2 separate regions of the Homo sapiens genome follow, and region 2 is linked to region 1. The links come from fine-mapping of genetic effects on gene expression. A gene starts in region 1. The other region holds a variant in brackets. All regions are shown on one strand. Distances are from middle to middle.

Region 1 (8,291 bases):
TTTGGTCAAGAATGATTCTGAATGTGTCTGTGGTAGTGTTTCTGGGTGAGATGAACATGAATAAGCAGGCTGAGTAAAACAGATGCCTCCTTACTGTGAGTGAAGTGGACCTCATCCAGTCAGCTGGGGTCTGAATAGAGCAAACAGGCTGACCCACCCCCAGGGTCTTCAGGACTGGAACACCAGTTCCCGGGCCTCAATCCTGTCAAGCCTTTGGACTGCAACTATACCATTGGGTCTCCCAGGCCTCCAGCTTGCCAACTGCACATCTTGGACTTGTCAGCCTCCACCATCAAGTAACACAATTCCTTGTAATACATTTCGATATATGTTTCTCCTATTGGCTCTGTTTCTCTAGAGAAACCTAGAACAGGATTTATAACATTATATTTCTTCCAGATCTAGTTATAAAGTTACACCTTTGCCGGGCACTGGGGCTCATACCTATAATTCCAACACTTTGGAAAGCTAAGGTGGTAGGATCACTTGAGGCCAGAAGTTCAAGACCAGCCTGGTCAACACAGCAAGATCCCACTGCTACCAAAAAAAAATAGCCAGGCACGGTGGCTCCAGCCCATAGTCGCAGCTACTTGGGAGGTGGACGTGGGAGAGTCACTTGAGCCCAGGAGTTCAAGATTGCAATACACCATGACTGCACTGCACCACTGCACTCCAGCCTATGTGACAGAGTGAGACTCTGACTCTAAAAGTAAAATAAAGTTTCAGCTCCTGATAGTTTCAGCCTGACTTGCTCAAGTTTTTCAGTGTTTATGAGAGATCAGGGCTCAGTGAAAACAGAGAAGTTTCTGACTCCAAAGTTCCCCCTGGGGCCATGAGTCCCAGACTCACACACCAACCCAGCTGCTCAGCCTGAGCCTGGCATTGGTGCACCCTGAATCCTCTCAGTCACTCCCAGTCAACGTTCCTACAACAGACCTTGGCTGAGCAGGAAGGTGCCGAGGCCCATACCTGGCCACTCTGCCAAAAACTGCCATTTTTTTTTCCTATTATAATTTATTATTTGCCAGCTTCCAAAAATAGTTTGGGGTGAACAAAGATTGATACATTATATACATGAAAAGCTTGTTTCGGCCAGGCACGGCGGCTCACGCCTGTAATCCTAGTACTCTGGGAGGCCTAGGCAGGCGGACTGCCTGAGCTCAGGAGTTTGGGATCAGCCTGGGCAACATGGCAAAACCCTGTCTCTACTAAAAATACAAAAAAATAGCTGGGCGTGGTGGCGCATGCCTGTAATCCCAGCTATTCAGGAGGTTGAGGGATGAGAACTGCTTGAACCTGGGAGGTGGAGGTTGTAGTGAGCCAAGATCATGCCACTGCACTCCAGCCTGGGTGATAGAAGTGAGACTCTGTAAAAAAAAAAAGGAAGGGGAGGGGAGGGGAGGGGAGGGGAGGGGAGGGGAGGGGAGGGAAGGGAAGGGAAGGGGAGAAAAAAGAGAAGAGAGAAGAGAGGGGAGAGAAAAGAGGACAGGAGAGAAAAAAATTTGTTTCAAGTGCAGAACTAAAACCAGTTAGGAGAAGATAAAAATATATCAAATACTTGAGAACTATGGCCCCAAAATCACATGGAAAAAAACTTACAAATGACATTTTAAATAAATTTCACAATTTATGTCAAAAACCTTGTGATAAATATTCTACCTACTCACCTAGTCATAAGGGAACTGAAGGGTAGGAAGATTAGCTGGTGGCCCCCAAATCATTTATAGCATATTTAAAAGGCAGAGGTGAATGTTTCTGTGGTTTTGCAAAGATCAAATGCTCTCTCTAGAAATTAGCATAACAGGGCCCCTTTCTGCATTCCATCTGCAAAAACAAATCAACTGTGAAATAAAGGAGATTCCACTAAGAGAAGGAGAAAAAAAAAAACTTCTAAATTACACATTTAGAAAATATGTGTTATTCCCTACATTGTAATTTACATTTTCTCACTCTGTTGTAAAAGGGATATATATTTCACTGTCCATTCTTTTCTGTTTCATTAATATAGCCAAATAAAAGACCCATTTAGATTATAAATTTTCAATAGAAAACACAAATAAAAATTATACTAGAGAGAAATTGACAAGGCCTTAAATTTAATTAATAAGATGTGTAAGAATTCCATAATGTTTTATTTGAGCATGTTTTCAGAGGATAAGACATCAAGTTTTATGGCTTAAATCAGTGATAGAAAAGGAAAAGATCCTGGGTCAGGCATGGTGGCTCACGCCTGTAATCCCAGCACTTTGGGAGGCCGAGGCAGGGGGATCACTTGAGCCCAGGAATTCAAAACCAGCCTGGGCAATACAGTGAGTCACGAAATAACATAACATAACATAACATAACATAACATAACATAACATAACATAACATAACATAACACAACACAACACAACACAACACAACACAACAAAATAAAAGGAACAAATTCTAAGCCATGGCCCTTTGATGAAGAGTCCTCCCAGGCAGGGCTACTCCTGTTAGCAGATTTTTCCTAGGCAATTCTCACTCGGTTTACAGCTTCTCCTTTACACCCTGGCCCACCTCTGTGCTCTGAGGGCAGGACCAGTCCTCTCTCTGACCCCAGGAATTAACATAAACCCCAGTAAAAACCTGGCCCTGGGTGCACGCTGCTTCAACACACAAAAATAAGTACGATTGCCTCAGTAAGATGCATGTTTGAAGTGTCTTTAGGCTTATTCAATAAGATTTACATGTTTTAAAGCCTAAAACTGACTGGAATGGAACAGGAGCTCACTTCTCTCAGGAATTAACTGTTTTCTGGCCCAGACAGCTCTCAGGAAGCAGCGTGTAGACAGGACAGAAACCAGATGGGTCATCAACCACTGGACTCTGACCAGCTTAGAGGAAGTGAGAGGTGTCAGCCCCACAGCAAGAGACACAAGCCACAGCAGATCTGATTAGCAAGCCCTCCATCACTGGGGTGTGGATCCGAGTCCCAGGCCCAAGCATTTAGTAAAGGACAAAAAAGAAAGGGAGGGTGGAAGAGAGGGAAACGGGAGAGAGGGAGGGAGACAGTCTAACTCTGTCCTTCACCTTCTGAAAAACTCCTTGCTGACCCAAGATACCAGGTTAGCATCTAAGAAATCAGGATAAAGACAAGACATAGGATTAGAGAAATCAGAGCTGGAGAGGCGGAGGAGGCCTTAGAAACCCTGTCCACCCACTGCAGAGAACTGTGAAGGGAAAGGGAGTGGCAGTGCAGGGGGTCTGGGCTCAACTCAGCCCTGTGCTCATGCCCTGCAAGTGTCACTTGCACCTACTGAGCCTGGGCAAGGGGACAAGGGGACCTGGGAACGGGAGATGGGGGGGTGGTGAGGGCAGTAGTTGTGTCTCTGAAGTCCCTTTGCTCTGCCTATCATTCAACATGGCAATTTCTCTACCACATGACCATGAACAACCTCCCAAGCAGCACGGAGCAAGAGAGAGACAGCTTCTCCTGTGGTCTTTTCTCCTTTCCGACCACACCACAAAGAAAACAGACAGCAGACAGACCTGGCAAACAAACTTACCACAGGCGTTTGTCCGAATGAGCTTGCCGTGGCAGAGTCCTGGCAGAGGCTGAGCCCTGACGGGCTGCCCGAATTGAAAAACCAATGCCATGTGCAGACATAAACTCCAAAGGCACTTCAGAGAACAGAGAGAGCCTCCATGAGAGCTCAGCCCCGGCAGTACCTCGCACAGCCACCCTCCCGTGCCTTCCTCAGCAGTTTTCTGAGTTTGCTTGTTAGGGCAAATCCTAAGATTGTGAGCTGTCCTGGAAGCACAATGGGTTATGTAACTCCAGGCAGCCTGGGAACCCTATCAGCTCATCTTGTTAAGCCACCCCAAACAGAAAATGACGCACCCAAAAATGTGATACCTCTAGGTTGGGGGAAGGGGAGTAGCAAGGAGAACGGGGCTTTGTGATGGGCATTCGGTTTTGCCTAAAAATTAAAGTGGAACAAAAAGTCTGCTGTTCATCTCAGGGCTTGCTGGGAACTGGGGGAGGAGTGAATTTATCAAGGGCTGAATGCCAAGCAGTGTCCTGAGACTGCACTTGGCAAAGCCCTGGGAGGCCACAGATGCATTCTTGGGGATAGTCTAGGTCTCTCGGAGAACTTTTTTCCATTTAATGTCTTCCTTTCAATGACTGCCTAATAAAACTTTAATCCGAGCATGTTCTCCATCACCTGACAGCCCATCCCTTAAACGCATAAGAGTGTCTGTGTTTACTCTCCTGTTTACCAAGCCAGTGCTAAACACAACAGCACCGAGCTGTTTCTCAGCTTTCCTCTGGTCCCAACAAAGAACCCCCAAGTCACCACATCCTATAGGGTTTGAAGTTTCAGCACTACATTCTGCCACTTCTTTGTTGTGTTTTTTGTTGTTGCTGTTTCGTTTTGTTTTTTTGAGAGAGTCTCACTCTGTCGCCAAGGCTAGAGTACAGTAGCACTGTGTCAGCTCACTGCAACCTCCATCTCCTAGGTTCAAGCAATTCTGCCTCAGCCTCCCAAGTAGCTGAGATTACAGGCGTCCGTCACCATGCCTGGCTAGTTTTTATATTTTTAGTAGAGACGGGGTTTCACCATGTTGGCCAGGCTGGTCTTGAACTCCTGACCTCAGGTGATCTGCCCGCCTCGGCCTCCCAAAGTGCTGGGATCATAGGCGTGAGCCACCACGCCCAGCTGTGAAGTTTCAGCGGTACATTCTGCCATTTCTTTACCCTCCACTGTCACATTCAAAGAAAGTGAAAGCACTTTAACAGGCTGGATGCTTCCTGGATTTCACTGGTACAGATGCCACTAGAATCCCAAGGATCAATTCATGTGTTTGGACAAATGTAGATGCGGTTGGGTCATCGCCTCCTCCACAAAGCCCTCGTGGTCTTCTCCTGTCCTTTCCCCTCCAAGGTTCAGCCTGGCACCCTCCTTGGTGCCCTACTGTGCTGTGCTTATCATTGTGCTAACCTCGGTGTACAGCCAATTTCTACTCACTCATCTGTCTCCCCAACTAGACTAAATTCTTAGGCAGCAAAGAACCCTTGCCCTGGGGTCCTACAGACCTGGATGCAACTCCTGCCACTCAGGAGTTTCACCAAGGTGCTGAACCTTTCGAGATTTAGACTCTTCACTTACACAAAGAGGATAATAGTACTCACTGCACAAATTGACACAATTGATACACCCAACAAATGTTCACTGAGCGCTGGCCACAGGCAGGCACTACGTTAGTCACTGGATTCAGGAGTGTGCAAAGTAGACACAGAGTTTGCCCTCCGCGACTTTAGTCTACTGCAAGTTTGGGAGACAAAACACAAATACAGTAGTTCAGCAGATGGTTAAGTTTGGGGGAAAAAATTAAACAGGAAAGGGAGATGGGGAAAGGTGAGGCAGATCACTCTGTATTGGGGGGGGGTCACAAAAAGCATCAAATAAAATGTCACTTGGAGAAGGAAGAGGGGGTCATAAGGATATCTGGAGTTAAGGCAATCCAAAGACCCTGAGGCTGGATGTGCCTGGTGAGTTCAAGGTTAAGTGAGGCGGCCAGTGTACCTGGAGCACGGAGGGCACAGAGGAGGCAGGTCAGCGGGGCAAAGAGGGATTCCTGTCATTCAGCCCCTTCCTTACAGGTCTCTATAGAAGGGGAGCTCACTGGAAGTTTGGAGGAGAGTTAAACCATCTGATTGTATTAAAAGCCAACTCTCATGGTTGAGCGGAGAAAGAATTTTAGGGAGGCAAGGGTAGCAGTAAGAGGCCCCACTGGAAGGCCAGTGCGGTCATCCAGGTGTGAGATGGGGGTGGCTGGGACACAGTAAATGCTGGGTAGATTCTGAACATACTCTGAAGATACAGCCAACAGAATTCTTGACAAACTGGGGTATGAATCGCAGAAAGGCAGAATCACAAATGCCTCCAAGGTTCTTGGCCTGAGCAACTAGAATAATGAAAGCACCATTTACAAGGATGGGGAAAACCCTAAGAAAAGCAGGTGCAGGTGGAAACCAGGAGCTCATTTTTGGTCATTTGAGTTTGACATGCCTGTTAGACATCTAAGTGGAAACTCATGTGGAGTCAGTCTGAGACATCTGGCCTTAAGGAGGAAGGGCCAGGCTGAGTACAGAAACCACCGAGTGGCCAGTACAGAAGGCGATTTTAAAACCTGTGTGCTGGGTGAGATCAAGTGCTGCACAGGTGCACACATAAGAGCAAAGAGGCGGAAAGGCTGGGCCCCGGGCCCTTCAACGTTCCCAGGCTTGGGAGAAGAAGAAACGCAGCCACTGAGGCAGAAGAACAGGGAGAGTGTGGGGACCCAGAAGCCAAGTAAAGACTGTACTTCCAGGACACAGGACTTGGCAACAGTGTGAACTACCACTGAAAAGTGAAGTAAGGTGAAGGCAGAGGACAGACCCCTGGACTGAACCAGGCTGTCAGTGTGGTGGGGCATGAGCCTGCCTGCAGTGGACTCCAGAGAGAACAAAAGAAAAACTAGAGTAAGCAAACAGAAGAGCAGAGACACTGGCCTGCGGGAAACACGGGACTGAGAAGGATTCTATTTCCGAAGAGGGAGATCATAGCATGTTTCTGCACTAATAAGAAAGACCCAAGTGCAAGGGGAAAAGAATGATGCAGTAGAGAAAAGGGAGATGTTGGAACTGTGTCCTTCAGGGGGCAGGCAAGTGGGAGAGGGACTCAGTCACAAGCGGAGGACAACACATGTGGGCCACTTAACAAAAAGGGAGAGGAGGTGTGTGGGGGCCTAGCACAGCAGCTAGGCACCAGGCTGGGACCCCCGGCTTTCTCTGTGCCTTTCTGTATCCAGGAAACCCCTGACACACAGGAGGTCCTCAAGGCTTAACTGGTAACACAGAACCAAGAGAAGCTACTGGAAGCCAACTTGCATATATTAAGCTGTCATCAGGCATTACTTCAAACAGACAAACAAAAGCAAACACTGCAGACAAAAATGAGAAATTAAGCAAACTTCTATATGAATGCAACTGGATTGAGCTATAATTTTGCCACTTGCTGCTGTTATGCACACCATCCTACACCATTTCCATTGAGAGCCCTCTCTTGTGCTAGCTTCAAGCACTTGTCTCAATGCTTCCTTGGGGAAAATAAAAAAGCAATAGCTCTACTACTAAGTGCCCGCACAGATGTTAGGTGATTACCACCTGGGACACTGAGAGTTATGACTGACACAGGTATCTGTAAAAATCCATGTCTGTGCAAATCCTGATGGTGTACAAAGGGCACTCCATGTAGTTTTCTGTTTTTGCATCCCACAATGACAGTGCATGTTATTCCCACTACACCTGTCTTATATCTGAAGAAGCTGAGTGCAAAGAGAGAAGGAAGGGTTCAATACACTGAGTGCCTGTGATGGGCCATGCTTGCTGCTCAGGTTTGGATGTTACCATCTTTAACCTTCATGACAATTTAGTGAAATGCTGTCTACCTCTCAGTCAGGATAGTAGGTCAACAACTGACACAAGTTACAAAATGGTTCACTGGCAGAACAGGTTCTGGATTGGAGGTCTCACAATCCGAAAGCTCAGAGTCTTTTGCACTTTGGTGGTTCCTCTCCACATACCTCCCCAAGACCCTCCCATGTGGCTGCATTCCTTCCCTAGTCCTCAGTGACTGAAACCTCCCTCCCTTCCTCCCTGGCAGGGAAAGGGCCCCCATACCAGTAATGGTGCAGGCATCCCGGTACCCTCTGTAGCTGGGAGCATCTTCCACAGCCTCGCTTATGTAGTGTTCCTCAGGGATGCCCAGGCTGCAGGCTAGGACTGCATGGTTGCATGCCTCCGAAGGGGGCACGGAGTTGGCCAAAGTGTCGTCGTGCAGAGCTGTGGCGTCCAGCTTGGCAGGTTTCACGGGGAGGTGCCCACTGCCATCGGGGGCCCCACTGCCAGAGTCTGGGGCAGTTGGGCAGATGGCCCCCGGTAGTTCTGGTGCACCAGCAGGGGCTCCTTATAGGGAATCTATGGGACAATTGAAAGAGAGGGGCACAGTTAGAGTCTATCGATAAACCTGGACAATCTTTAGAAAATGAGGGCCCCGGGATGACGTGCGTTCAGACTGCGAATTCTGAAACGCGTTTCTCTCAAGTCAAGGCATCTCCAATCACATTGCTTAGTTTCAATAAAATAACTGCAGCAAAGTTCCATTCAACTAATCAATATTGACCAAAATGTGGAGCACATGGCTTCATTTGCTTACTGAAACCTGCCTTGAAGCAGCTCTAAGCAAAGAAACACACTGGAGCACAGCTAAAACCTGTAT
Region 2 (8,327 bases), 78 kb after region 1:
AAGTCAGAATAGGGAACATTTGTTTGAAAAGAAGGGGGGAAAAGGAGGTGAGAAGCCAGAAGACCCATTCATTCAACAGTGTATCTCTGTCTAACAACAGTGTATCTCTGTCCAAGAATAAAATAAAACCTAAGAACCCACATAAGCCCTTGGGTTCTATCTCCATCTTTTAAAAAGAACATCCTCTTGTCTTTCCCTACAAAAATCACAGTGCATGCCAAATATAGATGAGTTAAATAAATCTGAGTCCATTTTCTTTTGTTTTGTTTTGTTTTTGAGACAGAGTCTCACTCTGTCGCCCAGGCAGGAGTGCAATGGCACAATCTTGGCTCACTGCAACCTCCACCTCCTGGGTTCAAGCAATTCTCCTACCTCAGCCTCCCACGTCGCTGGGATTACACACGCATGCTGCCACGCCCGGCTACTTTTTTTGTGTTTTAGTAGAGACGGGGTTTCACCATGTTGCCCAGGCTGGTCTCGAACTCCTGAGCTCAGGCAATCCACCTGCCTTGGCCTCCCAAAGTGCTAGGATTACAGGTGTGAGCCACCGCAGCCAGTGGTCAGAGTCCATTTTCAAAACCAAGGGTCACAGAATCATATATGTGAAGAGGCTGGTCATGGTACTTTAAAGTTTATCAAACTTCCCGACCATACAGTATTAAGCTCTGGCATGCACAAAAGGCTTTACTGAATATCTGCAACTCTCAGTGAGTTTAAATGACTGTTCGCCCTCCAATGCCTTTCTTACTTGAGCCCCAAAGGGTAAAAAAAGAACTGTCCCTTGCAGAAAAACTGGCCACCTATCTGCTTACTCTCCTTGGCTCTCTTATGAGCTATATGGTGCTACAGAACAATCGCATCTATAAAAACTCCGACAGCTGACGGAGAGGAGAATGCCCAAGGTCTGTTCTCTACCTTGGGAGCACGAAGTCAAGATGGAGAGCCCAGATGGTTAATTCAAGAATCACCAAACAATTACAGAGGCCTACTATATACAAGGTCAGAGGCAGGGACTCAGAATGCAACGACAGGGACTGGGAGTGGTGGCTTGCGCCTATAATCCCAGCACTTTGGGAGGTCATGGCCAGCAGATCACTCGAGGTCAAGAGTTTGAGACCAGCCTGGCCAAAGTGGTGAAACCCCGTCTCTACTAAAAATACAAAAATTAGCTGGGCGTGGTGGCAGGTGCCTGCAATCCCAGCTACTCGGGAGGCTGAGGCCAAAGAATCACTTGAACCTGTGAGGTGGAGGCCGCAGTGAGCCAAGATCGCACCACTGCACTCTAGCCTCGATGACAGAGCGACACTCTGACTCAAAAAGAAAAAAAAAAACAAAAAACCAGAATGCAATGACAGGAACAAAGTCCACTTAAGATGGCAAACCTTAAGGTGTTGTTAGTTTGGAAAGTGAAAGTTTAAGAACTCCATTCAATGTGAATAGTGCTCTATTATTTTTGAAAGCCCTTTTATTTTTATGTTTTTTGTTTTTGTTTTTGTTTTTGAGATGGGGTCTTGCTCTGTCGCCCTGGCTGAAGTGCAGTGGCGGGATCTTGGCTCAATGAAACCTCTGCCTCCCGGATTCAAGCTATTCTCCTGACTCACCCTCCTTAGTAGCTGGGATTACAGGTGCCCATCATCATGCCCAGCTAATTTTTGTATTTTTAGTAGAGACGGGGTTTCACCATGTTGGCCAGGCTGGTCTCGAACTCCTGACCTTAAGTGATCCACCTGCCTCAGCCTCCCAAAATGCTGGGAATACACGCACAAGTCACCATGCCCGGCCCAAAGCTCTTTTATATTACCTGATTTGACCCTCATAATAAACCTATAAAACAATAATTACTATTATATGCTTTATTATCCCTGTTGGGGCTCAAAAAGCTTACCAAATTACAAACCCAATCATGTTGGAAGGAGACCTGAAAACGCTCCCATGTCATTCAGTCAAACTTTTACAGACACCTCCATTTAAAACATTGTCTCCCAGAGAGGGGAGAGCAGGACAGAGAGGTTAAGTAAGGTCACACAGCCAATAGAGAGGAGTTGGAATTTCAGTCCAGGTTTCCCACTCCAAGACCACAGAGAAGGAGAAGCAACACAGCCAGAGTGGAGACACCCTCAAGCGAGCGCTGGGGATGGGAAACTGGTCCCTGGGGCATCAAACAGGAAACGGCTGGTGCTGGGGCCAAGCTGAAACCCAACTGTTGCCAAACTCGCAGCCCTGAGACAAGGGCTTTAAACCGATTCAGCATCCCCCAGAGCCGGGCTCAGCTTTCCAGCTGGCTTAGGCTACACTGGGCTGGGAACCTCTGTGACAAAGCTGAGGTCCAAGATCAAAGAGCAACCGAGTATGACCATTCCAAACCGAGAGACAGAGGGGAAGGCGCCATCTGTCACTCCAGGTCCAACTCTCCAAACCTACCAGTCAAGCTCCCAGCCTGTTGTCCCTTCACTCAATCTGGGGAGACCCTCCCCAGTGCAGACTGGCTCCAGGGCTAATCAGAGCTTAGTCTGAGCACCTTCCTCTTCGCTGCTCTTGTAGTTGGAAATTGGAAAGGACCCTGGAACTAGACCGTTTCCCTATGGTAACCTCCACTCTCCTTCCAGATAAACAAAAGACCCTCCAGAAAAGGTTACCAGTCCCGAATACACACTCACAGACAGTATTGACAACGTTTACACTTTTGAAGCAAATAAAGTTCCAGTGAAGCATATCAGAAAAAAAAAAAAATCAGCGGTCCAACGACGAATACTCTGAAGGCTCTCAAAGCGGACGCTAATTTCAGTGTCTGAACAAGTGCAGCCACGGGTTCTAAAACAGGCAAGCTTAAAGCGGAAGGGGCACCCAGCACCAGCCTCAAGAGCAGGCCGACTTTTAACATCTTTCCTGAAACACAACTTTACAAAAGAAGAAACGATACAGTTCATTACATTTGTTTTTACCTGCAAGAGCTTGACCTTGGAGACTAGAAAAGAACTTTAAAAATCAGGTCAAGAAAGTGACAAAGTAAACTTGTTAACTCTCAAGGATGCAAAGGAGGGCTCTAAAGGCTCTCTGCTCTCTGACACGCTCAGATGATGTCATTTTCATCAAGTTTTGCGGGTGAGTGGGAATCGGGGTGCTGCCCGCGCTCAGCTCCAGGCTCTTTGAAGGTCGCCTCACTGTCACCTCGGAGTGCCGGAGCGCGGAATCCAGGCCACGCGGCGTGGCCGACACGATGCCCTAGGGGCACTTTTCCGGGCTCCGAGGGCCTCCTGCAGGTGCGGCCGGTGCATTAGGAGGGCTGTCCCCGCAGGGTCCCGGCGCCCGGCCTCTCACGCCGCCACTATCTCACGCGGACACTCCCAGAACACCCGTGTCCTTCCCCAGCCCCTGGGCCCGAGGCGCAGGCGGCGCGGGTGAGCGGACCCCTGGCTTACCCGCAAGAGGTGCACGGAGCGCAACCCGGCAGCAGGCGCGGTGCCGGGGGGCCTCGGTGGGGGCTTCCTCCGCGTCGTTCTCGGCCCGGCCCCGGCCGCCCGGCGGCTTCGGTTCCCTCCGCTGCAGCCGGCCGGGCGGCACGGGGGCACTCGCGGGGGCTCCGCTCTGGCGCCGCCGCCTCCTGCTGCCCGCCTGCCGCTCTGGCGCTCCTGGGCTCGGAGTCCGGGGTTCCGAGACGCGGGGGTCGTCGGGGCGTTCGAGACTCTCGGGGACGCTAAGGCTGCGCTCCGGCTCTCCCGCGCGCGGCCCCACTCTGGGGGACGCCTCGCTTGAGGCGCGCGGGCGTCAAGGGCTCGGGGCGCGCGGGGGCGGCGGCCGGGTGGGCCCCGGGGCGGCGGGCGGGGGCGCTGCTGCGGACGCGGGCACTGTTGCGGGCGCCGCCGCGCGGCCTCTCGCCATGGCTCCCCCGCGAGCGGGCGGCTTGCACCTCCCCTCCGCGCTGCCGTCACCGCCCGACGCGCGCCGAGCCCTCCCCCTTCCCAGCCCCGCCCGCCGCCCCGCGCCGCCACCTGCGGGCCGCCCTCCAGGATGCCCGCCGGCCACGTCCTAGTCGCCTGGAGCCGCGCCCCGCCTTCCTCGCCCGCGGCTGCCCCTGCACTTTTACCCACGCCGTGGGGCACAGAGAAGTATCCGGTAAA[G/T]ACCTGGATCCGGAAAAGCTGATCACATCCCTCCCCGAGCGCTTATTTACTTCTAGCACTTCTCGGGGTCCTTCCAGAGTCAGTCTAAGAGAAGGATGGGACCCCCGCGGCCCGGGGCGCTGATTGTCGTGAACACAGTGGAAGTCCAGGCGTTCTGTTCCTGCAGGGCGGGCTGTCTCCTAGCAAAGCCGCCCTTAGGCTTAAATGGAGGGAGGATGGAGCCGGGGACGGGGGGAAGGCTGGAGGGGATGGAACTGGCTGTTGGACTAAGATGCCACCAAAGGGTGACAGGCAGGGGGCTGGCGGACAGCAGAGAGGGGATCAGGAACCGATCCAGGAAGTAAGAGCTCACAGGCCACTCTATTATGCAAATCACTTGTGGACGGTTTAACAGGGAACAACCCACATGATCTCATTTCCAGTTGAGGCTACTGAGTCTACTTCTTTTCAACCCAGGGGTCATAGAGGACATTGGGAGGACTTGAAGAAGACTCAGACCAGAACCAAAGGTGTAAGGAAACTAAACCCTGCAAAACCTGATTTCTCATACTGGCATAGACTTGACTTGAAGAGATCATCAAGTGTATAGTGAAGATTGGCTCAGGCAAGAATCATCCATGAATGCTTACTCTAGGGGGCTGTTACTGGCTGGCAGATATTTGTCTGGGTTGATGTGTCTCCCCATAGATGGTTTAGACCTGTTAGTAGCAAAAGCGGAAATAGTAACTATACAAAGAGGCAGGCAGACAGCATCTTAACCAGGTGATCAAAATTTACATCACCAATGAGAGCAGATGGATATCATGTCCACATCAGCTATGCAGTATTCCTGGGGACAATGCATAACCTGAATCATGATAGTGAAACATCGGACAAACCCAAAATGAGGAACATCTATTAAAAAGAGGAAGGGTCTGTATTATTCAAAAATGTCAAGGTCATTAAAATCAAAAGAAAGCTTGGGAAATGTTCCAGATTAAAGGGTGCAAAAGAGTCAGGGCAGCTAAATGCCATGCCTGATCCTAGACTGCATCCTGTGCTAGAGGAGGGGAAATACATCACGGACATTCCAGCTGACAAAATCAGAATCCATGTAAGAGATTAAAGTATTGGATCAATGTTAAATGTACTGATGTTGATAACTTCCACTGTAATTATGTACAAGAATATCTAATTCTTGGGAAATACACACTAAAGTATCTTGAAAGGGTAAAGGTCATAATGTATGCAGCTTACCTTCAAATGATTCAGGGGAAAAAAAATCTTGATAGGAAAAAATGATAAAGCCAAGTGGGCAATAAAGGTAAGGTGCATATTATCAGTGAATCAGCATATAGAGTGTACTTGAACATTTCTGTAAGTTTGAACTTATTTCCAAATAAAAAGATTTGGAAAAATCCATCAAGTTGGGGAATGAAGTAAGGTGGAAAGAAAGCAGGTATGATATAAAAGGGCAACACAAGGGATCCTTGTGAATTTGGAACTGTTAAACATCTTGAGTATGGTAGTACAGGTGATAAAATTATCTAGAACTTAATATACACACAAATGAGTACAAGTAAAACTGGGAAAATCTGAATAAGATAGGTAAATTGTATCAATGTCAATATCCTAGTTATGATATCATATTAAGGTTTTGCAAATGTTGTCATTGGGGGAAACTAGGCCAAATATATATATGTGTGTGTGTGTGTGTATTTTTTTTTTCCCAAGACGGAGTTTTGCTCTTGTTGCCCAGCCTGGAGTGCAATGGCACAATCTCAGTTCACTGCAACCTCCACCTCCCAGGTTCAGGGAATTCTCCTGCCTCAGCCTCCTGAGTAGCTGGGATTACAGGCGTGCACCACCATGCCTGGCTAATTTTTGCATTTTTAGTAGGGATGGGGTTTCACCATGTTGGTCAGGCTGGTCTCGAGCTCCTGACCTCAGGTGATCCACCTGCCCCAGCCTCCCAAAGTGCTGGGATTACAGGCATGAGCCACCGCACCTGGCCCAAATATATTATTTCTTAGAAATGAATGTGAATCTACCATTATCTCAATGCAATTTTTAATTACAAAAAAAATCATTTTTAATTACAAAAAAACTGTATGTAAATGGGCATGCCCATCAGGGAGCATGCCAGAGCAGATATGCTGGAGCTCTCATAGTGGATCTAGAATAGACATGGTGCTGTTACCAACAGTGAAGGCTTTCAAGAAAAAAAAAAAATTAGACTATTTGAAGTATAACTGACCGATCAGATTCCTTCCAGTTCTGTAATTTAACAATCCTAGAGCTGGGGGTTCTTTGAGATCATCTAGTCCAACCTACTCATTTTCTGGAAACTGTGGGCAGAAAAGTAGTGTGTGTCCACAGGAGCATCAAATTAGCGGTAGACCCGTTAACTACTGCTTGTCTGCCAAATATGTTCTACTTTCTTTACACCTTTACCAGCTGTCTGTCACTCCCTATATCTATGAGATTCAGTTAAGGCTGGTAGAAAATTTTGAAGTCATTCATTCTTTGGAGTCCCTGATTTGTTCTGTAGTGCCAGATGACAGGCATGTGGATTCTGCCCCTGAGGAGTAGGGACCAGTTTTCCTCTCCTACTCTCAGCTTGGAGGAAGCAGATGGCAGGCGGGGCCCCAGTGACAGCCCCAGTTCTGGGCCTGACTGAGCTGATGAACTACTTGGAGCAGCTGCTGACCTGCTGCTGCTGGAAGCCAGTGGAACAGGAACCTGGGAGGGAAGCAGAATGGATACAAGAAAGGAAAACAGTAATTGCCCTGGTAAGTCCTCCCTTCATCCAGCATGAGGCAGAAGTAGCTGCAACAGAGGCAACTGGCTTCCCTTGAGCCACAGATAGCCACTGTATTCTTTCCTTTTGTTGAATCAAATCGAAATTAATCTATGTTTACTTGCATTTGCCAGGCCCTCGTTAGTAACTGTGGGAAAATACAAAATAGAATATCTGATCCCTACCCATTAGGAACCCAGAATGCATCCAGGGACCCAAGGTGGAAATGTTGAAAGTGACCCAACAAAAGCAATTAAAAGGCTAGCTATATTAGCTGGGGTTCCCCCCAAAAGCAACATTGGAGAAGGACTCATGGGCAGATACTTTCTTCTGGAAAATGATCCCGTAGGATATGGGTAGAAAAAGAAATTGGGACCAGAAAGAATGAAACAGGAAAGAAAGAAAGCCTATTGAAGGATATAAAATTTCTGTAAACAACTGGAGCTTAGTCCCACTGAGGCCCCCTGAGGAACTGCGCAGAATGTAAGACAGAGGAGGAAATATTTAGCCACCAGTTCCTATCTCCCATTGGCCAACTTGATGCTGAGTTCAGGAGTGGTGGCTCACACCTGTAATCTCAGCATTTTGGGAGGCCAAGGTGGGTGGATCACTTGAGCCTCAGAGTTCAAGGCCAGCCTAAGCAACATAGCAAGACCCCATCTCTACAAAAGAAAAATTTAAAAATTGGCTATGGAAGTATGAAGGTATATGCCTGTAGTTCCAGTTACTCAAGAGGCTGAAGCAGGAGGATTGCATGAACCCCTGAACTCAAGACTGCAGTGAACTATAACTGAACGATGGCACTGCAGCCTGAGCAACAGAGCAAAACTCTTGTCTCAAAAAAAAAAAAAAAAGTAGATGCTGAGCAAAAAAAGCTAACTAAGATACAACATGGGACATATATAAAAGATGCCTGACACCAGCTTTATTCATTGCTGCAGTCCCAGCACCAACAACAGTGCCTGACTCATAGATGCCCCGTCAATAGATACAGAAAGAATGTCTGGGTGCGGTGGCTCATGCCTGTAATCCCAGCATTTTGGGAGGCCAAGGCAGGCAGATCACTTGAGGAGGATCACTTCAACTTCTGTTGAAGACCAGCCTGGCCAACAGGGTGAAACCCCGTTTCTACTAAAAATACAAAATTAGCTGGCATGGTGGTGCATGTCTGTAATCCCAGCTACTTGGGAGGCTGAGGCAGGAGAATCATTTGAACCCAGGAGGCAGAGGTTGCAGTGAGCAGAGATCATGCAGTTGCACTCCAGCCTGGGCGACAGAACGAGACTCTGTCTCAGAAAAAAAAGAAAAACAAAAAGAAAAAAAAAAAAGGGCGGGACGAGGTGGCTCACACCTGTAATCCTAGCACTGTGGGAGTCCGAGTCGGGCAGATCACCTAAGGTCCGGAGTTCCAGACCGACCTGGTTAACATG

Evidence for each region. PIP is the estimated chance that this variant, and not a neighbour inherited with it, causes the effect.
Region 2: its variant is fine-mapped to the expression of TRAK1 in monocytes after R848 (Quach 2016, PIP 0.95).

Annotation. Positions count from the first base shown.
Region 1 is chr3:42,086,803-42,095,093 of GRCh38, reverse strand. It overlaps TRAK1 (trafficking kinesin protein 1), which reads right to left and starts at 3,737. Exons shown (of 16, transcript NM_001042646.3): 1 at 3,534-3,737. The coding sequence starts at 3,624. RefSeq lists an enhancer at 1-108.
Region 2 is chr3:42,009,210-42,017,536 of GRCh38, reverse strand. LOC107986077 (a long non-coding RNA gene) reads left to right here and starts at 3,968. Exons shown (of 2, transcript XR_001740668.2): 1 at 3,968-4,113; 2 at 4,575-5,519. It also overlaps a transcript of TRAK1 not described here. RefSeq lists enhancers at 2,201-2,702, 3,096-3,235, 4,216-4,285 and silencers at 3,426-3,495, 3,556-3,715, 3,756-3,825, 3,916-4,035. The variant G/T (reference allele first, on the strand shown) is at 4,119.